Homo sapiens: one gene and its partners. The protein of the gene in region 3 interacts with the protein of the main gene of each other region in a biochemical or structural test. Each region holds a gene or a part of one and is shown on either strand. Other genes may lie near its edges.

What was found.
Region 1: the proteins of UBE3A (region 3) and UBQLN1 form a complex in vitro, tested with the Homo sapiens proteins (2 studies listed by BioGRID, with this or other methods).
Region 2: the proteins of UBE3A (region 3) and PRKACA form a complex in vitro, tested with the Homo sapiens proteins (2 studies listed by BioGRID, with this or other methods).

The regions. Positions count from the first base shown.
Region 1 is NC_000009.12:83,697,083-83,704,958, reverse strand, and holds part of UBQLN1 (ubiquilin-1), read left to right. Parts: intron 1-7,876. UniProt on the Homo sapiens protein: Plays an important role in the regulation of different protein degradation mechanisms and pathways including ubiquitin-proteasome system (UPS), autophagy and endoplasmic reticulum-associated protein degradation (ERAD) pathway.
Region 2 is NC_000019.10:14,099,887-14,107,762, forward strand, and holds part of PRKACA (cAMP-dependent protein kinase catalytic subunit alpha), read right to left. Parts: coding exon of another isoform or gene 7,825-7,876; intron 7,524-7,824; coding exon 7,462-7,523; intron 7,003-7,461; coding exon 6,874-7,002; intron 3,029-6,873; coding exon 2,930-3,028; intron 1,023-2,929; coding exon 940-1,022; intron 1-939.
Region 3 is NC_000015.10:25,332,205-25,338,754, forward strand, and holds the end of UBE3A (ubiquitin-protein ligase E3A), read right to left. Parts: 3' UTR 1,524-6,550; downstream 1-1,523. UniProt on the Homo sapiens protein: E3 ubiquitin-protein ligase which accepts ubiquitin from an E2 ubiquitin-conjugating enzyme in the form of a thioester and transfers it to its substrates.

The DNA of each region.
Region 1 (7,876 bases), on a different chromosome or scaffold from region 3:
CTTTCAGTCAATATATGATGTTATAGCTGTGAGGATGTTTTTGCTTTTTGTGATGTTAAAATTATAAATTCTGTGAACGCTTTTATTTTACTCTGCTGTAACCAAAGTGAGATTTTTTTTTTTTTTTTTTTTTTGAGATGGAGTCTCTGTCACCCCCCAGGCTGGAGTGCAATGGCATGGTGTCGGCTCACTGCAACCTCCCCTTCCCGGGTTCAAGGATTCTCCCACCCCAGCTTCCCTAGTAGCTGAGACTACAGGCGCATGCCACACCACACCCGGCTAATTTTCCTATTTGTAGTAGAGACAGGGTTTCACCATGTTGGCCAGGCTGGTCTCGAACTCCTGATCTTGTGATCCGCCTGCCTCGGCTTCCCAAAGTGCTAGGATTACAGGTGTGAACCACCGGGCACCCGGCCCAGTACGAATTGTTAATAGATAAAATTAAAGTCTTTCTGAAGTAGCCTTTTCTGATGGTAGTTTATTTTTAAATTCTTGATCATTGTTTTATGTTGAAGCAGAAAATGTGATAAAAATTGACGCTTATCACCACACCAGAGAACCTGTAGACAAGTTGGGCTTTGTATATGCAAGGGAAACAGATACAGGAAAATGTGGAAGAAAAAGAAAAGCAGTTTTCAAATGACCTATTTGTAAAATCTACTTGAAGCACAAAAGATATGCCATTTTATAATTTAAAAATTTTAAAGGGTTTGATTGAAACTGTTTGTTACAAATGAAAATTTGTCATTAAAAATACTTAATGACATTAAAATTCCACTGAAAGTGTCCAGTTAGAAATTGGGAAATATTTAGTCTTTAAAATTTGTACCTAATTTTGGAGGGTCAGAGGGTAAGCCGAAGACCTCCAGAGGATAATATTGAAGGCTTATGCTCTGTATCAGACAAATTCCGTTTTCTATAAGTTAAAATTTCTTTCAATAAGTATTTCTATGTAATGTAGATTCCTTAACACATTATACCAAAATTCTGTTTATATGAACATGCTGTAATAAGTGATTAGATGAAATTACGTTAAACTTCTTGGGTAAATTGTAAGGTGGTAATTTATTTTCCTATTTTTCCATTGGTTTCTGGTCGTGAGTACCAACAGGCAGAAACAGGTTGCCTTAATTTTTTACAGTGCTATATACATTTGGTATTTAATAATGTTACTTGTTCAAGGTTACTAATAAAGCTTAAGCTTTTTTCCAATTTAGAGTGAAATTTATTATTCACGGAGCACTCAGAATCAACTGAGTAACATAAATTTTTACTTACAGGTTGCTAGAATAGGTAGTGAGAATATAAACTGCACTGTGTACATTCCAAGGTGCTGTCATTAATAGAGATTTTTGTAATACAGGTTTTGAGTATCCCTTATGGGAAATGCTTGGGACCAGAAGTGTTTGGGACTTTGGATTTTCTTTTTTTTTGGATTTTGGAATATTTGTATATACATAATGAGATATCTTGGGGATGGCACCTAAATATAAACATGAAATTCAGTTATATTTCATGTACATTTTATGCACAGAGCCTAAAGGTAATTTTATACAATATTTTAAATAATTTTGCGAGTGAAACAAACTGTATACATTGAACCATCAGAAAGCAAAGGTGTTACATATGGGATTTTTCCACATGTGATGTCATGGTGTTAAAAAATTTCAGATTTTGGAGCATTTCAGATTTCATATTTTTGGATTGGGGATGCTCAACCTGTATGTAAGTAAATAGATACAAAAGCATAAATGTGTAGTGGCACAAAGTCCCTGTGTATGAGATTTTTTTTTTTTGGTTAATTGTTCATCATCAGCTATTGAAAAGAGCTTTGAGGATTTCCAAGTATCCACGAGCAAGATAACATCTAGAAGAATGGAGAGTTATATATGTGAGACATTAGTGCAGATAATGGAGGGGAGTTTCTGTGTAACTTCTAATTAGCTTATTCTGGGATTTCATAGACTGTTAGGTTATGTGTAAAATTTTGAAGTACATTTACTTGAAATGTTCAGGCAGTATATACTCTGGTTTTAGAAAGTGCCTTCTGTCAGTGCAAACTTCTGGGAAAATATTAATATACTTAGACATAATTTAAACGTATTGAGTCAAATTGAGCCTTTCTTTGATAAGGCAACTTGCCTTAGGGTCATCATCACACACATGATTTAACGTTATACTGTATAGTGTGGATCTAGAACTATACTGTCCACTTTGATACCATCACCCACATGTGGTTAAGTACTTAAAAAGTGAGATGTGTTAAGTGTAAAATTTATACCAGATTTTGAAAATTTGGTATGAACAAAATAAATATCTTAATACTTTTGATATATTATGTATTGAAATAGTATTTTGCAGATCGTGAGTTAAGTAAAATATCAAAATTAATTTGACCTTTTATTAAAAACTTTTTTTTCAGTATGGCTGCTTAAAATTTTTAAATTACTTGTGGCTTATATATATTTCTGCTGGACAACATCTTATCCAGAAGGTTGGATTGAATCAGTATAGCAAGATATCTGAGAAAAAAAATGTCTGTGAGATCATTGTTTTCTTATTTGCTTTGTTCTAATACTGGACAGCTGAAAAACTCGTTATTTAATGATTCTGATTAACAGAGATTGCTTAGCTTTTTTTAAGAAAGAGCGTAATTGAAGTGTAATTTGCCTACCATACAGTTCACCATTTTAAAGTCTGTAATTGATGTAATACATTCACAGGGTCGTGTAGTCAATTTTAGAACGTTTAGAACCCTCAAAAAGAAACGCTGTACCCTTTAGCAGTTGCCCTTCGTTTCTCCCTGGGCCCCCCAGCCTTAGGCAACTACTGATCTATTTTTTGTCTATAGATTTGCTTGTTCTGGGCGTTTGTTGTAAGTGGAATCATGTGGTCTTTTGTGATTGGCTTTCACTTAGCATAGTGTTTTCAAGGTTCATCCCTGTTGAAGCATGTGCCGGTACTTACTTCCTTTTTATTGCCGAATAACATTCCATTGTGTTGCCAACAGCATTCCACATTTTATTTTTCTATCACGTGGTGGACATTGGGTTGTTTCTACTTTCTGGCTATTGTGACTAATGCCTCTGAACACTCATGTATAAGTTTTTGTGGGGACATAACGTTTTCATTTTTCTTGGGTGTAGATCTTGGAGTGGAAATTGCTGGGTCAAAGCTCTATGTTGAGCTTTATGAGGAGCTGCCAAATTATTTTCTAAGGTGTCTGTACCATTTTACATTTCCACTAGCAATGCATGAGGATTCCGATAACCACATTCTCGGTAATACTTATTACTGTCTTTGTGATTATAGCCATCTTACTGGCTGTGAAATGGTATCTTACTGTGATTATTTTGCTTTTTATTTTCATTATTATTTTTGCTGGGGGCACTCTGAGGAAAACTGGACAGCCTGCTAGACAAATTTGCTTTTTGTTATCTGAGCAGTAGTTCTCACTGTGGTTTGGGGAGTCCCCATACCCTGTTAAGGGTACCATGAGATGAAACTATTTTCATAGTAATTCTGAGATGTTATTTTTATTTTTCAGTCTAATTTTCTCAAAACTGGGCAGTGCACTTGGCTAGAGTCTTTAAGGTGTGGGATATGACAACAGATGTGAAAATCCAGCTGTCTTCTATTACAAGACTAAAGTGATTTCCAAAAATTTAAAATAATGCCACTCTTATCACTGAGAAAATAGTTATTTTTCATAAGGATGTTATTTTTATTAATATATAATGTATTATTTTTAAATGAATTTATTTTTAAAGGTTATTCAGTTTTAATTTGTAATATTATAAATATCAACAGCTATAACCTAAACAAGCAAAACTCTTTGGAGTTCTGAAGTTGTAAAATGGTGTCCTGAGAGCAAAAATTTCTGTGGTGGCGTATTTTATAGATTACGTACTTAAAATATCGGGTAGTGGCTCCAATAAGTTGCCATTACCTCTTGCCTAGAAACTGCAGTAGCCTACTGGTCAGTTGCCTGACTTCTATAACTCTCCCACCAGCCATTCCAAGAGTGATCTCTGAAAAACGTTAATCAGAGCATGCCACCCTCTGTGTAAAGCTAATGGCTCCCTGTTGGTCTTAGAATATATAATGGAGTAGCGAGGCCCTGTGTAATACGGTTCCATGCCCTCTCCATTTTTTGCAGATGCCTTCTTTCTTTGCTTGCTTGGCTGACTACATTGACCTTCTAGTTCCCTGACCTGTTAATACTTTTTTTCCTGCCTGAGGACTTCTGTACAGTTTGTTCTTGCTACCTAGAATGCAAGAACACTCTTTGCCCATTCCTTTTCCATCTTTAAATCTTAATGCAAAGGTCAGTTTCTCCAGGTAGTATCTATTTCTGATTGTCCAGACTGGATTGGGATCCCCTGTTGGATTTCTCACAGTAGCCTGTTTTTGATAAGAATTCATCACAACTAAAAATTGTATATTTATGTGATTCCTTCTCTTTAGAGAGGGGCTGTGATTGTTCACCATTGTGTTACCAGAGCCTAGGGCTCAATAAATTATTTACAGATGAATCTAGTCCATTATGTACAATAATACATATTCAGTAATAACTACTTATTGTTGAACCTTTACTGAGTGTAGTATGTACATAATCTGGTAGCTCCCAGTCCTTTTGTGGAAGCTTCCTCTTAAGCTGTTCCCCCCAGGTCACCACTCTCCAGGCACAACTCTTGACTGCTTCATGATGTTCACTCTTGCTTCTCTGCCTGGAACATTACTCTTCTAGAACCACCTTTCTTAGCTGGAGATTCTCATCTGAACCACAGAGCACAGAAAGTGATATGAATAGCTATCCATTTCTTTTCAAAGATGGTTCATAATGAATATAATTTTAGATGTATAGGAGAGAAGTTAATTCATTACATAGTGAGTGGTTTGTTGGTAAATGCTGGTTTATCAACCCGTTCTTCAGGAAAAACACTGATTTGTAGTGTTTGCTGGATTTCCATGATGTAAATATTCTCACTGTGGCAGATTTCAAGATACCGTTATTAAACTGGCTCACAAAATTTATGAAAATTTAAGAGCCATTGCTTATAATGGGTGCCTTAGGGCAGAGGCCAGCAAACTGGTAGTCGAAATCTATTGTGCCCATTTGCTTATGTGTTATCTATAGCTCCTTTCAGAATAGACCATGTGGCTGGTAGAGCCAAAAATATTTACTGTCTAGCCCGTAACAGAAAGTTTGCTTACCCTGGTATTAGGGCTTCCTGTTAATATATCTTGTTCATCAAAACACTTCTCATTGGAAATTTTTACCATGACTTATTTTTTATAGAAATACAATGTGAGCTGGGCTCAGTGGTTCATGCTTGTAATCCCAACACTTTGCGGGGCCAAGGTGGCAGGATTGCTTGAGCACCATGGCTCAGTGATCATGGCTCACTGCAGCCCCCACCTCCTGGAGTTCGAGACCAGCCTGTCTACAAAAAAATAAAAATTTAGCTAGGTGTGGTGGCACACACCTGTAGTCCCAGCTAGTCCAGCAAGGTTGAGCCCAGGAGTTTGGAGGTTACACTGAGCTATGATTGCACCGCAGCATTCCAGCTGTGGTGACAGAATGAGACTTGGTCTCTTAAAAACAAAAAACAGTATGAGCCACATATGTAATTTTCCTATTAGCCACTTTAATCAAAAGGAAGGACTGAAGTCAATTTTTCAATAGTGGTGACTCACACATAACAAAATTTATCATGTTAACCATTTTTAAGGGTTCACTTCAGTGACATTAAGTACATTCACATTGTTGTACAATTGTTACCACCATCCGTTTCCAGAACTCATCTTGCAAAACTGAAACCCTGGACCGTTTAAACAGTAACTCCCCATTTTCCCCATTCCCCCACCTCTAGCAACCACCATTCTTCTTTCTGTCTCTGAATTTGACTACTCTAGGTATTTCATATAAGTGGAATAAGACAGTGTTTGGCCTTTTGTGATTAACTTATTTCCCTTAGTATAACGTCCACAAGGTTCATTTATGTTGTAGCATGTGTCAGAATTTACTTTTTTTTTTTTTTTTGAGACAGGTCTCACTTTGTCACCCAGGCTGGAGTGCAGTGGCACAATCATGGCTTGCTGCAGCCTCCACCTCCTGAAGTTCAAGTGATCCTCCTGCCTTAGCCCCCCAAGTAGCTGGGACTGCAAGCTCACATCACCATGCTTGGCTACTTTGTATTTTTTTGTAGAGACAGGGTTTCACCATGTTGCCCAGGTTGGTCTCAAACTCCTGAGCTCAAGCGATCTGCCCCCTTGGTCTCCCAAAATGCTAGGATTATACAAGTGTGAGCCACCGCACCCAGCCAGAATTTACTGTGTATGACTGAATAATATTCCATTATATGTATGTACCACATTTTAAAAATCCATTGATCTGTTGCTGGTCGCTTGGGTTGCTTCCACCTTTTGGCTATTGTAATTTTAATATGCTTTATTTAACCCAGTATGTCTAAAATATTTTAAGGTGCAATTGATATAAAGACTATAAAATATCTTGCATTTTGAAATACTAAGTCTTTGAAATATATTTTGTAATTTACACTTAAGCATACCTCAGTTTGAAGTAGCCACATTTCAGGTGCTTAATAGCCATATGTAGCTAGTGACTGCTGAATTAGCACAGCTAATAAAGCTTTCAGGATGTGCTTCCACCTGCCTTTTCTCCTGTTTTCATTGCATTTCAGCCAGTTTGTATTGTCTCTTCCCCTACCCTCAAATATCACTGGCTCTTTCTTCCCCTTTTTGAACCTTTGCAAATGCTGTTAATGACAATGACATAATGGCCAATATTTATTGCAGGCATGATTTATAAGGCATGATGCATTATATTTTTTTAAAATGTCACATAACTTTATGATGAAAGCACTATTATTATCCTTTTTTTAAAAAATGAAGATGCTGGCCAGGCATGGTGGCTCATGCTGCTAATCCCGGCACTCTGGGAGGCCGAGGCGGGTGGATCACATGAGGTCAGGAGTTTGAGACCAGCCTGACCAACATGGAGAAACCCCGTCTCTACTAAAGATACAAGATTTGCCAGGTGTGGTGGTGCATGCCTGTAATCCCCAGCTACTCGGAAGGCTGAGGCGGGAGAATCGCTTGAACCTGGGAGGTGGAGGTTGCAGTGAGCTGAATCGTGCCATCGCACTCCAGCCTGTGGGATAAGAGTGAGACTTCGTCTCAAAAAAAAAAAAAAAAAAAAGGGTACAAAAAATAGCCGCGTGTGGTGGTGCATGCCTGTAGTCCCAGCTACTTGGGAAGCTGAGGTGGAAGAATCTCTTGAATCTGCGAGGCAGAGGTTGCAGTGAGCTGAGATCTTGCCACTGCAGTCCAGCCTGGGCGACAGAGGGAAACTGTCTTTTTTTTTTTTTTTTTTTTTTTTTTGAGACAGTGTCTTGCACTGTTGCCCCGGCTGGAGTGCAGTGGTGCAATCTCAGCTCACTGCAACCTCCGCCCCCTGGGTTCACACAATTCTCTTGCCTCAGCCTCCTGAGTAGCTGGGATTACAGGTGCACACCACCACACCCAGCTAATTTTTTGTATTTTTAGTAGAGACGGGGTTTCATTATGTTGGCCAGACTGGTCTTGGACTCCTGACCTCATGATTCGCCTGCCTTTGCCTCCCAAAGTGCTGGAATTACAGGCGTGAGCCACCGCGCCTGGCCTATGTCTTAAAAAAAAAAAAAAAAACCAGAAGATACTGAGACTCATATTAATAATGTGATCAAATTCATACACATATTAAGTAGTAGACTGTAGATTCAAACCCAGTACAAACTTGGGAGGCCTCACCGATCCACTGCCCCAAACTGCCTTGACTTTCCTTTGACTGGCTTTTCAGTCTTTAAAGTTC
Region 2 (7,876 bases), on a different chromosome or scaffold from region 3:
GGCTGGAAGTGCAGTGGCGCGATCTCGGCTCACTGCAAACTCCGCCTCCCGGGTTCACGCCATTCTGCCTCAGCCTCCCGAGTAGCTGGGACTATAGGCGCCCGCCATCACACCCGGCTAATTTTTTTGTATTTTTTTAGTAGAGACGGGGTTTCACCATGTTAACCAGGATGGTCTTGATCTCCTGACCTCGTGATCCGCCCGCCTCGGCCTCCCAAAGTTCTAGGATTACAGGCACGAGCCACTGCGCCCAGCCAATTTTTTTTTTTTAAAAGAGACAAAACCTCACTATGCAGCCCAGGCTGGTCTCAAATTCTTGAGCTCAAATGATCTTCTCACCTCAGCCTCAGGACTAGTGGGACTACAGATGCATGCCACCTTTTGGGGCTCAAAAAATGCACAAAATCAACAACTTCAATTTTTTTTTTTGAGACGGCATGTCACTCTCTCACCCAGGCTGGAGTACAGTGGTGTGATCTTGGCTCACTGCAACCTCTGTCTCCTGGGTTCAAGTGATTCTCCTGCCTCAGCCTCCCAAGTAGCTGGGATTACAGGTGCCCACCACCATGCCCAGCTCAGTTTTGTATTTTTAGTGGAGACAGGGTTTTGCCATGTTGGCCAGGCTGGTCTCAAACTCCTGACCTCAGGTGATCTGCCCACCTTGGCCTCCCAAAGTGCTGGGATTACTGGTGAGAACCACCGTGCCTGGCAGCAACTTCAGTTTGGACACCTAAGTTGCCCTGTTTGCTCTGTTTTGTTTTGTGGTGGTTGAAATATCACATATTCCTCAGCAGAGGGGAAACAGAAACCCACAGGGTCTGGGAGACCACCTGCATGTTGAAGTATGCTGGACTCCTCTGCATTCCCAGGGGGCTTGGTCGTGCACTGCCACCTGTGGACACCCTGACAGCCTGATGTGATGGGGGGTGGCCCGCTTACCTGAACCTTCCGATCCGCCGTAGGTGTGAGAACATCTCCCCGCCGGGCACGTACTCCATGACCATGTATAAGTTTGAGTTGTCCTGTGGGAAGCAGTGGCTGGTCAAGGGCCCACCCCTGAGACTTGGACCCGATCTGAAGGCCTTGGGGGCCTCCCCGGCTGGTGTTCAAACATTAAATGACAACAGCGATCCTGGCTCCCTGTAGGAATCATGTTCTACAGGGGCGACCCTTATCCTGCTGTTAATGGGTGAAAGTGAGGGCTGGCTCAGAGGTATGTCAGGACCTGGTTAGCCTGCCTTGGCTGGAGAGAGAACTCTGTAGTACCTTGCTCTGGGAGCTTGAGTAAGGCTCTGAGGCCACAGTTTTGTCATCTGTAAAATGGGATCATGATAGGCTGCAGAATTAGTGGGGCCCAGAATAAAAAAGATGGCCCCTGGTTAAAAAATTATTACAGAGGGTCGGGTGTGGTGGCTCATGCCTGTATAATCCCAGTACTTTGGGAGGCCAAGGTGGGTGGATCACTTGAGCCTAGGAGTTTGAGACCAGCCTGGGCAACATAGTGAGACCCCGTCTCTGCAAAAATACAAAAATTAGCTGGGCATCATGGCGTGCACCTGTAGTCTCATACTCAGGAGACTGAGGTGGGAGGATTGCTTGAGCCTGGGAGGCAAAGGTTGTGAGCTGTAATTGCGCCACTGCACTCCAGCCTGGGCAACAGGGTAAGACCTTATCTTAAACAAAACAAAACAAAATGGCCGGGCACGGCTCACACCTGCAATCCCAGCACTTTGGGAGGTCGAGGCAGGCAGATCACCTGAGGTCAGGAGTTCAAGACCAGCCTGACCAACATGGGGAAACCCTGTCTCTACTAAAAAATACAAAATTAGCCAGATGTGATGGCACATGCCTGTAATCCCAGCTACTCGGGAGGCTGAGGCAGAAGAATTGCTTGAACCCAGGAGTCAGAGGTTGTGGTGAGCTGAGATCGCATCATTGCACTCCAGCCTGGGCAACAACAGCCAAACTCTGTCTCAATAAAAAAAATAAAAATTAGGCTTGGCACAGTGGCTCATGCCTGTAATCCCAGCACTTTGGGAGGCCAAGGCAGGCAGATCACTTGAGGTCAGGAGTTCAAGACCAGCCTGAGCAACATGGCAAAATCCTGTCTCTACTAAAAATACAAACATAAGCTGGGCATGGTGGTGGGCACCTGTAATCCCCGCTACTCAGGAGGCTGAGGCAGGAGAATTGCTTGAACCCAGGAGGCAGAGGTTGTAGTGAGCCAAGATTGCGCCACTGCTCTCCAGCCTGAGCAACAGAGTGAGACTCTGTCTCAACAAAAAAAAATTATTACGGATCTCAAGACAGCAGCAGCAGCAAAGCGTTAAACCAGGTGTGGGGTCCCTCGGAGAACAGGCCCTTGTGCTTCTCTGGGTCAAACGTCCATGAAGCTGGCCCTGAGTGGCCTTTCCTGTTTCTCATGACCACAGCTTTGGATGGCACCCAAAACGGCTCCCAAAGGGCGCTCAAGACGTGCCTGGAACTGTCATGACAACCCCACCAGGCTGGAACTGGTATGATCCCCATTTTACCATGAGAAAGCTGAGGCTTGGGGAGATAAGTCTCTTGCCCGGGGCCACACATCAAGAAGTACTGAACTGGGAAATGAACCCCGGCTGCCTGGGGCAGAGTTTGTGCTCCTGGGTCAGGCTCTTACCATAAACCAGGTGCTGCTTTTGAGGGATGTTACTGAGGTTGGGTGACTCACCAAGGGTATCGAACTACAAACTGGCTGGACCAGGAACTGAACTTGGGTCTACCAGAGTCCCAGCCTGACTCCTGTCCCCTGATCTCCCTCCTCCAGGGATCTTGTTCTTCCACAAAAGAGAGCAGCCACTGATTGTCCTCAGCTCCGACCCCAGCCCTGGGGGCCAGAAGGCTGGGACCCAATGCAGTGACCCCCCGCCCTTGGCCACTGGGACCCCACCTTGAAGGAGAACTCGAGTTTGACGAGGAACGGAAAGTTGACAGCTTGCAGGATGCGCTTTTCATTCAGGGTGTGTTCGATCTGTTTCAGTTTCACCACCTGGGAAGGGAAGGAGGGGAGGGCAGAAAGGAGGGGGAGGTGAGAGGGGCCTCATTTCCCCTAATGCCTGGAACTAGGGATGCCGGAGCCAGGCCGGTTCCTTCAGCCAGAATCATTTGTGTGCCTGTGGCCTGTCGGGCCCTTAGCTGATGCTGAGGACACAGCATCAGGGAGGCTAGGGGCTGCTTGTCCTTGCACGGCACTAAGTCCAGGGCAAAGAATACATGGGTTACCCCCACAGAGGTCAGAGCCGTGGTGGAGGGTATCTTGGGGTTGTGGAGAAGCAGCCCCCAAGAAGCCCATGTAAAGTACCTGGCGTGGTCTGGGGAAGGGGGAATCAGACAGCGCTTTCTGGAGGAAGGGGCAGCTGAACTGAAATTGAAAAGACAGGCAGGAGAAGCCCAAGAGGTGGGGGGTTTAGGACCTGCCTTACCCTTGTCTAGAACACTCCACACAGCAACCTGAACCTCAGGCTAACAGCTCCTCAGCCATCAGCTGTCCCCTAATAGCAGATGCCATGAGCAGGCACCTGGCACCCAGTCTCTCACTGAATCAGGATAGAAGCCCTAGAGGCCCATGCTGGGAGTACGCCAGTTTGGAAGACCAGACACAGAGGGGAGGTGACTTGTCCAAGGTCACACAGCTGGCTGATGTCAGGCTGGTGTGTAACATGTGGCCAGCCTGGTCCCTCAGTCAGCTGTCAACTGCTTTGCTCACATAGCTGTGTCCTCAGAGTCTATACCTGCCCTACCCAGTTCAGTCCCCATTAGCCACAGGGGGATGCTGGGCCCTTGAAATATGGCTGGTCGGATGGGGAGCCAAATTCAAAAATTTTAAGTATCTAAAATATAAATTAAAAAACTGACACCAGCTGGGCATGGTGGCTCACGCCCGTAATCCCAGCACTTTGGGAGGCCCAGGCAGGTAAATCGCTTGAGCCCAGGAGTTTGAGACTAGCCTGGGCAATGTAGCGAGACCCCATCTCTACAAACAACAACAAGGACAACAAAAGCAATTAGCTGGGCATGGCACGACTATGGTCCCAGCAGCTCCAGAGGCTGAGGTGGGAGGATCATTTGAGCCCAACTGCACTTCAGCCTGGGCAACAGAGCAAGACCCTGTCTCAAAAACAAAACAACCAGGCCGGGTACGGTGGCTCACGCCTGTAATCCCAGCACTTTGAGAGGCCGAGGCAGGTGGATCACGAGGTCAGGAGATCGAGACCATCCTGGCTAACATGGTGAAACCCCGTCTCTACTAAAAACACAAAAAATTAGCCGGGTGTGGTGGCGGGCGCCTGTAGTCCCTGCTACTCGGGAGGCTGAGGCAGGAGAATGGCATGAACCCGGGAGGTGGAGCTGGCAGTGAGCTGAGATCACACCACTGCAGTCCAGCCTGGGTGGCAGAGCGAGACTCCGTCTCAAAAAAAAAAAAAAAAAAACAACAACCAGCCAGGCCAAAATGGTGAAACCCTGTCTCTACTAAAAATATTTAAAAACTGGCCAGGTGTGGTGGCTCACGCCTGTAATCCCAGCACTTTGGGAGGCCGAGGCCGGTGGATTACAAGGTCAGGAGATGGAGACCATCCTGGCTAACACGGTGAAACCCCATCTCTACTAAAAATACAAAAAATTAGCCAGGCGTGGTGGTGGGCGCCTGTAGTCCCAGCTACTCAGGAGGCTGAGGCAGAAGAATGGCGTGAACCCGGGAGGCAGAGGTTGCAGTGAGCCAAGATCGTGCCACTGCACTCCAGCCTGAGCGACAGAGCGAGACTCCATCTCAAAAAAAAAAAAAAAAAAAATTAAAAAATTAGCTGGGCGTGGTAGCCGGCGCCTGTAATTCCAGCTACTCAGGAGGCTGGAGCACAAGAATCGCTTGAAACCCGGAGGCAGAGGTTGTAGTGAGCTGAGATCATGCCATTGCACTCCAGCCTGGGCAACAAGAGCGAAACTCCATCTCAAAAACAAAACAAAACAAAACAAAACAAAAATTAAACTCTTGATGCAGGTACTGGTGACTTTCAGGCATGGTTGGAACAACTTGGGCATGTGAATCTGCTTTTTCAACTTCCCTGCTTTTTCTTATCTTTCCAGGAAAAATTTACCATCAGAGTTGAGAACTGTTGTAAGCATACAATAGACACTGGATTTTAAAGATACTTCAGTACAGAAAAAAAGGAAATATTTCCGAAGTCATGGAGGACTGGGAAAAAAACAAAAGGAATGTAAAATGTTTCATTAATGATATTTTCACATTGATAATATATGGAAAGGGTAATACTGTAGATATACTGGCTTAATTAAAACATATCATTAGGCCAGGTGTGGTGGCTCACATCTGTAATCCCAGCACTTTGGAAGGCTGAGGCGGGCGGATTACCTGAGGTCAGGAGTTCGAGACCAACCTGACCAACATGGTGAAACCCCAAGTCTACTAAAAATACAAAAGTTAGCTGGGCGTGGTGGTGGCACCCATAATCCCAGCTACTTGGGAAGCTGAGGCAGGAGAATCACTTGAACCTGGGAGGTGGAGGTTGCAGTGAGCTGAGATCACGCCACTGCAGTCCAGCCTGGGCGACAAGAGTGAGACTCTGTCTCAAAAAAAAAAAAACATAAAAAAAAGCCCCAAACATGTCATTAAAATGAATTTCATGAATGACACCTGTTTCTTTCATTTTCTCTTTTAATTACAAACTTTGGGTGTTTTTTTAGAGATGGGGTCTGGCTGTGTTGTCGAGGCTGGAGTTGAACTCCTGGGTTCAAGTGATCCTCCCACCTCAGCCTGTCTAGTAGCTGGGACTACAGGCGTGCGCCACCGTGCTTGGCTGTTTTTACTGTTTATGATGGAGCAAACAGAAAATTTAAAATTGCTTCTGTGGCTCAGGTTACATTTCTGCTAGTTACATTGCTGCTTTATAGCAGTGCCTGGTATAAAGTCCGATCACAAAAATATTTACGGGAAGAAAGTGCACATAAACACCACTTCCCCCAAGAGTGCTCTTGTTCTCCTCCTGTTGGGCTGGTGTCTGACCCTGTGTCACAGTGCCTGGCTTTGAATCCATGGCCGGCCTGGAGAGGGAGCTTTGGGAAGGCGGCACAGGGCCCTTCTGACCCCTGGGGCTGGCACATTATGGGGGCTCGGGGAATAGTGGGTGAGCCTGGCATGGTGGCTCATGCCTGTAATCCCTGTGCTTTGGGAGGCTGAAGTAGGAGATCACTTGAGGCCAGGAGTTCAAGACCAGCCTGGGCAACACAGCAAGACCCCCTGTCTAAAACAAAAAACAAACAAACAACAAAAAAAAATTAGCCAGGCATGGTAGTGTGCGCTTGTAGTCCCAGCTACTCAGGAGGATCTCTTGAGCTCAGGAGTTTGAGGCTACAGTGAGCTATGATCACGTCACTGCACTTTCCTGCTTGGGCAACAGAGCAGGATCCTGTCCCCCACAAAAAAACCAAGCGGCCAGGCGCGGTGGCTCACGCCTGTAATCCCAGCACTTTGGGAGGCTGAGGCAGGTGTATCACCTGAGGTCAGGAATTCGAAACCATCCTGGCCAACATGGCGAAAACCCATCTCTACTAAAAATACAAAAATTAGCTGGGTGTGGTGGCAGGCGCCTGTAATCCCAGCTACTCGGGAGGCTGAGGCAGGAGAATCGCTTGAACTAGGGAGGTGGAGGTTGCAGTGAGCCGAGATCACGCCACTGTACTCCAGCCTGAGCGACAGAGCGAGACTCTGAATCAAAAAAAAGCAAGTGAGTGAACGGGTGGATAGGGCACTCTAAGGAGTGGGCACAGTCCAGGCAAAGGCCTGACAGGCAGGCCCTGAGCGAGGACAGGCCACCTCACCTTCTGTTTGTCGAGGATCTTCATGGCATAGTGGTTCCCGGTCTCCTTGTGTTTCACCAGCATCACCCGCCCGAAGGAGCCCGTGCCGAGGGTCTTGATTCGTTCAAACTGATCCAAGTGGGCTGTGTTCTGTGGGCAGAGGGGTCGGTAGGCTCAGGGCACGCCCTCCCCGCGGCCTGCTTGGCTAAGGTCTGGGGCATCCCCTCTGCCACCGGCAGAGGGGGCCCCGGGGAGCACGTGGGGTCAGCGGGGTGAGGACAGGGGGCGGAAAATCAAGATGGCAGAGGGCACATTCCTTAAGGCGGGTGGCAGGGGCCAGATCCGGCCCTGGCCTGGGGCCTGGAAGCTGCTGGCAGCTGTGCTGGGGGCAGGGGCGGGCCGTTGGGAGGGGTGGTGGGATGGGGGTGCCTGGCATTGGGCAGTCAGGTGTCTCCACACAGGAGCCCCCATGGGCACCTAGGGAGCAAATGGGGAGGGTCTGAAGCCTTCTATGGGGTTTCTGAAATTCTAGCTGTGTTGCTGGGACACAGCCAGGGGCTGGGGGTTAGCAGCTCACCCCTCCCTGGGCTCTGCACCCGGCAGCCTTACCTGAGCGGGACTTTCCCATTTTTTAAGAAAATCTTCTTTGGCTTTGGCTAAGAATTCTTTCACTGAAAGGGAGAGAGGGGAGAGTTATACAGAGACGCCCGTCTCACCGGGGTGGGTTCAGGTGATTTCTGGGGAGATACTTGGTGGAAAGTGGGGTGCAGTTCCAACCCAGAGCCTGACCTTTTTCTGGTGCCTCTGGGGCCTTGGCTGGGCCGTGGCCTGGGCCTCCCTTGCTACAGAGAGGTGGGATCCAGCTGCCACTCCATCCAAAGTGGGGTACAGAGAGTCTCAGGGGTCACTCGCAGGGGAACGGAGGGAGGTGCCCAGGCAGACCAGCCCACCCCCACTCGCCCCAGTTCTGACCGACATTCCATGGCCAGGGCCGACGCCAGCCGAGGTATTTATAGCCTTGGGA
Region 3 (6,550 bases):
TTTGCTTAACGTCTGCAAAATAAAAGTCCAAAGTCCTTGGTATGGTCTATAAGGCCCTCATTATCTGACCTGCCTGCCTTCCCAATCTCATCTTAATCCCTTACAGCCTGACACTCAGACATACTAGACTTTCCACCTAACTCACTCACATACACCTATCCTGTATGTCAAGATTCGGCTTGACCTTCATCACCTACCTATCTGCAGTATTTTTGGATCTGAATTCTCTGCCCACATTGTACTTTCACATACTTCTTTTACCCTTAGTGGTTTGTACTTATGCCTGGTCTAACTAGATTGTCTCCCTGTAACAGACTTCTTGATTCAACAAAGCAGCTCTGAATCAGCCTGAAACCTATGGCACACTGCAAAATGGCAAACATTCAATAGGTATTTGCCCAGTAAATGTTAATGAAAGGAAAAAAATTCAAACTTCAGTTGGAATAGGATTAGAGACAAGTTAAAAAAAAGTTTCCCATAGAAATCTTCCTCATCGTAAATATCATCATCCTAAATGTCCCGAGTCTTTCCATGGGTCTAATTTACCAAATCATGAAGACTCTCTTTCTCACTGTGTATGTGTAGTGGGAGAGGCAGAGACAGAACGGTTTTTTTTTTTTTTTGCAAGTCTGCTCTCTGGATTCGTTTTTCTGGGGATGAAATCTCAGGCTATGTAGCTTTTCTGGTCCCTTTTTGGTAATCAACAAATCATCAGTTTCTCTAGGTATTAAAAAGCCTACACTTTTGAAACACCAAGAGGCCAAACTCTCTCTTAATTGAAAACATAATTCTGCCTCTTACTGAGGTCTTTGGGTGGGAAGCTTAAAGACAGCAGTGTTGGGGCAATTGGTTTTTCTTTTCCTCCCTCCACCTTCTTTCCCATTCAAGAGCTGTTGCTGCCCTTTCTGGAGGGGAGGGAATTAGAAAAAAAGATCCTGCCTTACCCAGTCACTGTTAATTATTACTTTGAGCCAGGGTGGGGAATGACTTTCTTTCCTGGAATACACCCTGCTGGAAACCACAGCTGAGATTCTCTAAGCTGGCAGCTTCCAACCTCTCCTCCCTCAACAGCTTCAACATTATATGGCACTCAGCTGCAGGGTGCCTGGCTCCAGGCCGGCAGTCCATTTGTGCAGGGTAGTTTTCAAGATGGCTCATAGCCCATCTCTTTCAGTGACCAGCGTGGCCTATGGGAAACATACATCTTGACTCCATTATTGGTAGGAGTACTCTTTAGTTAACTGCCACAGGCCAGTTCAGACACGTCTTACCCTGAGAGCCTTTTCAGAGTCAGGTACCATCCCTGTGTCCCCCAGCATCTGAAGATCACAGGTGAAGGTCTCCAAGTAGTTCACTTAAAAAATACCTCAGTAGGTTTAAGAACAGGGAAAGCTCCCAATTCATTCTGTCAGGAGTATGACTCTCATCCCCAAACTGGACAGATATATAATATGAAAACTACAGACCAATATTCCTTATGAATATAGATGCAAACATTCTAAACAAAATACTAGCAAACCAAATCCAGCAGCATAGAACAAGGTTTATGTAGCATGGACAACTGAGATTATCCCAGGAATGCAAAGTTAATTCAATATACAAAAGTCCATTAATACAACATATTAATAAAGGACAAAACAACATGAAAATCTTGATACAGAAGAAGCATTTAACAAAACCCACAGCCCCTCCTTTTTTTTTTTTTGATTAAAAAACACTCAGTAAACTAGGTTTAATAAAAGAATTTCCTCAACTTGAAGCAAACCCACAGCTAGCTAACATCATACTCAATGGTGAAAGACTGAATGCTTTCCCCTTAAAATCAGGAACAAGAAAAAGATGTCTGCTCTTGTCACTTCTATCCAATATTGTACTGGAGGTGCTAGCCAGCACACTAAGGCAAGAAAATGAAATAATAGGAATCTAGACTGGAAAGGAAGAAGTAAAAGTATTTCTGTTCACAGATGCATGATCTCATATGCAAAAAATACTAAGTGACAAAAAAAGAATTTTAGAAAAGCTACAATATACAAAATCAATATACAAAAATTAATTTTATTTCTAACACCAGTGATGAATACAAAAATAAAAATTAGAAAATAATCATATAATTAAAGTGGCATCAGTAAAATACTTAGAAAAAAATTAAAGACGTCAAGACTTGCACACTGAAATCTCTAAAACATCACTGAAATAAAGACCTAAGCAAATGCAAAGACATCCCACAGTCATGGAACAGAAAACCTAACACCATTAAAATAGCAGTTATTTCTCAAATTTATCTACCAATTCAACTAAATCCCTATCAAGATCCCAGCTGTTTTGCAGGAATTGACACAATGATCATATAAAAATTCATATGCAATGCAAGGGACCCAAAACAGACAAAATGATTTTGGGGAAAAAAAAAAAAAAAATGGAGGACTTGCACATCCCAAATCTAAACTTACTACCAAGCTACAGCCATCAAGACAGTGCGGTGCTGGTATAACGACAGACATATAGGGCAATGGAGTAAGACTGAGAATCCAGAAAGTCTTATATTTATGGTCAACTGTTCTTTGACAAGGGTACCAGGACCATTCATGGGGAAATAATAGTCTTTTCAACAACTGGTGCTTGGGCAGATGGATATACAGATACCAATGCACTTATGCAAAAAATGGATGAAATAGGAAACTTCACTACATTCTACTGCATGCTCGGTCATTTTCAATCATTTAGGTGGCAACACTGACAAGATAACAGAAAGATGGAGGTAATAACATGTGAAAGGCAAAATGGTTTGTTTTTTTTTTTAAAAATGACAGTCTCTATCATGAATTTACTTACACTCCAGGCAAAGGTTATTAGAAGAAAAAAAGATGTAAGAAAATTCCTTAACTGAAATGTGGAAAGAGTATCAAGAGGAGACCCTAAGACACTCTGTAAGAATCCCAGTGACTCCTCACTGTTCAACTAAGAAATGTACCCCATTATGCTGTGCTACCACGGAAGCATTGGAGGCACTTTGGGGGTTGATGAAGTCTTCATGGATGAGGTACTTTAAATATCTGGTCATGAAGAGTATTTGAGAAATATGACAAGTGAAGATGCTGGGTAGGAATGCAGCGAGGAAAGTGTGTAACACAAGGCCAAATTGGAAAGGTCAGTGAGGGGGCAATCTGTGGAGGCACTGAATGCAGAGGATATTAAAATTAGCAAGATAGTGTTCTAGCACAATGAAAAGGATTGGAAGAGGGAGATGAGAGTCAGGGAGTGAAATTAGGCAGCTGCTAAGAATGTCCGGGTGAGTCAGAGGATCAGGACCTGTAAGGGCAGTATAAAGAAGGAAGGAATGATGGGAGAGGTTTAGGGGGAAAGAAGTGACAACCTGTGACAATTGAGGAATGAGAGATTTTGATGATTGGGGTGAAGGTTACATTTCTTAAAAAGAAACAAAGAATGGTCGGTCGATAGAGATGCAAGATGAAGAATTTTGTTTTTAGGACTACTGACTATGAGGTAACAAAGAAATCCCAGAGACAGAGGTCTGAGCAAAAGATATGGGATTGGGGAAGAATCTTTGGGAGTGACTGAGGTTGACTAGAGGGAACTGGGCAAGAACAGGTAAGGACTTTAAGCAGAATTGGAGGAGTATCCATCTAAAATCTGGGTAAACTGGGATGGAAAAACAAGTAGCCAGAGAAGCAACAGCCCAAGCTAGGGTGTTGTCAAGGTTATAGATGTTACTGATTTTGGCAATGAGGAGATTATAAGGATCCTTGAAGACTGTACTTTCGGTGAAACTACCATGCATTAGTAGCCTTTCACAGTGATATCTACCCCACACCTGCATCAAAATCTTGCAGTGCCTATTAATAAATGCCAACCCACTAACGGGGAGGGGAGAAAAGACTTGGGACTCTGTACTTGTAAAACCCTCTACCCTCCCCAGGCAATTCTTTACACACTAACACTGTTGAGGTAAAAGGAGACAAGTGAGGGAGCAAATGGAAGGTGTGTTTTTGGATTATACAGTGGCTCATGGAAGGGTGGGAGGGGTACAGATGGCCCTTAGACACTGGCGGAAAGTCAGAGAAAAAAAATTACAGTAAGCAGGTAAAGGGATCAAGACTACACAGGGACTAGTCTTGGGACGACATTTCTTCCTCTGACAGTTTGTATGGAATTCTTGAGAAAAATTCCTCGAAGGGGCCTGAAATCTCAGAATGGTCATGTTTTTAATGGGAATAGGGAGTGATGCTGCCCCATTACAACCATCTGTTCTAACAGAATGTCTGTACCGAGGAGGGATGAGTAACATCGGCAAGTTCTGTTCGAAGCCTTTTTCAAGTTTCTTTTTGATATGTATCTATCTATCTATCATCTCCCTATACAAGCAAGCATCCCCAAAAGTAGTTGTCTCAGGAAACCAGGGTTAGGATGACCAGCTCATTTGCTGGAGCTGCCAAGGTCCAGAAAAGTTTGGCTGCAGGCTGTTTTCATGTTTTATGTATGTTTGAAATGTTCTATAATAATAAAAGGTTAAAAAAGTTTACATTTATTTGGAAAACCAGTTACTTTAGTTTATGGTTCCTTTTTTTCCCTCCAGAGCTTCCTGGAGATTGAGGTCTAATTCAAAGAAAACCAAAATATATAATAGAGTACCTGGGCAAAAAAAGTACTTTTATAACATAACATTTGGGGTAGAGGAAGTATCCACTGTAGTCAAAATGTCTATGTTTTGCTCTTCCTTATTGTTCAGGGACATTCCATTAAATAGTAATGAAAAGGCAGCAAAAGTAAGAGGAGTGACAACATGCCCGGCATAATTAAGCAAGCTAGAGCAGCTATTCTGTGCAACCGACGATTTTTTTTCTCTAAAATTTTAAGGGTAGGTTCATTCTGACTCTGTTAAAAGTCTACTTGATGTGAACAACTCTATATCTGATAACCTATTTCAATTACCACTTTAAAACTTGTCATATGGATACGTTATTACAATTGTAGAACTTTAATAAATACCATAATAATAAAACTTGAGAACTGAAGAGCACACATTTCTTCACGAATTTATTATATAAAACGCCCTCAGAGTATTTAATTTCTCCTCACTTTAATTACACATTAAGAAGCACAGTGGATGAGAAGCCTTTAAGATGACTACAGTTGCACGAAGGTCCCTTTCATCAAGGTAGCGTATGTACCCTAACAGTGTTCTAAAGGCTGGCCCAGAAAAACCCCATGTTACCTTATCACAATATGGAAAGCATTGTCTTCTTTTTCCACTAAATTAAATTATGGTGAAAAGTGCCACAGTTTTATTTAGCATTATGGTACATAACAAACAGTTCTGTCTCAATTATGAAAAAAATTAATTAAAATAATCCTGAAAGACATCCTTTTTCTCCCCCCAATGATTTGAAAGCTGCATTTTTCCTGCCAATTTCAAACAAACAAATCATCAGGTTGATCTACAGTAATCAGTTAAAACAATCAGTCAATCAATCAATCAATCACCAAGGCACAAGCTCAGCACATTAGCTATAGCTTGTAGCAAAAGGATATATCAATGTCTCACCTTAGTTAAAAATACATAATCCTTTTATTTTATAATGCAATAAAAGAAATTAACAACATCACATACACAGAAGACTAGGAAAGGGGAAACTACTTACTTCTGGAAATCAGTAATGTAAACCTACTTGTACTTTTCCATAGTACATGAAAGTAACGTTTAACATGTTTTGAATTAATTAATTAAATTTAATCTGTGGGGCTATACAATGTAATTCTTAGGAGTAATAGTTTCATTCATTTCCAGGTCAGCTTACTGTATGATTAAGTAACACAAGGCACAGTAGCCATCTTTTTCATTATGTTGCAACACTGATCACGTGCCTCGATAAAATGGCTGATTCAACAAGATGATGGCAACACGAAGGGGAGACTTTGGATTGTCTATTTAAAATCTAGGTAATAAGTAAGTAATTAATAAAAACTCTATCTTAAGTGCACTTTCACATGCTTTTTGTTTATAATAAACAAACAACAAACTTCCTAACTTTGTTGCAATAGGCTTGACTACCATTTCATTTGGCCAAATGCACTTTCCCCAGTAAACTTAAAACAACAACGAGAACAACAAGAACAAAAATCCCTGTCCTTTCATATACTAAGAAAGAGGATTGGCTACTGAAACAGTTCATTGCAAGACACATGAAGACGACATACTGTGGCATGAGTTGTTTTTGTTTTTAATTTGTTGTGCTGTTACTAAAGTTCTGAGGGCTGCAGTTAAAACATTCCAATTTCTCCCTTCCTTCCATCTTTCTTTATTGATTGATTCTCAAGATTTTGCACAGAAAACTCTTTGGGGGCTAGAACAGCAGTAATTGCATCACACTGTTTTCAAGACTTCAAGTTTCAAAAGCAAATCATTAAAAAAAATACAGTTCCTGATTTGAGTTAGATACAGGGACAAAAAAGTAGCACATACTTGAAGGTTACGTGGTCTACAAATGGTGGCAATATTTTCCTTGGGAGAGTAGTTCTGTTGGTATATATT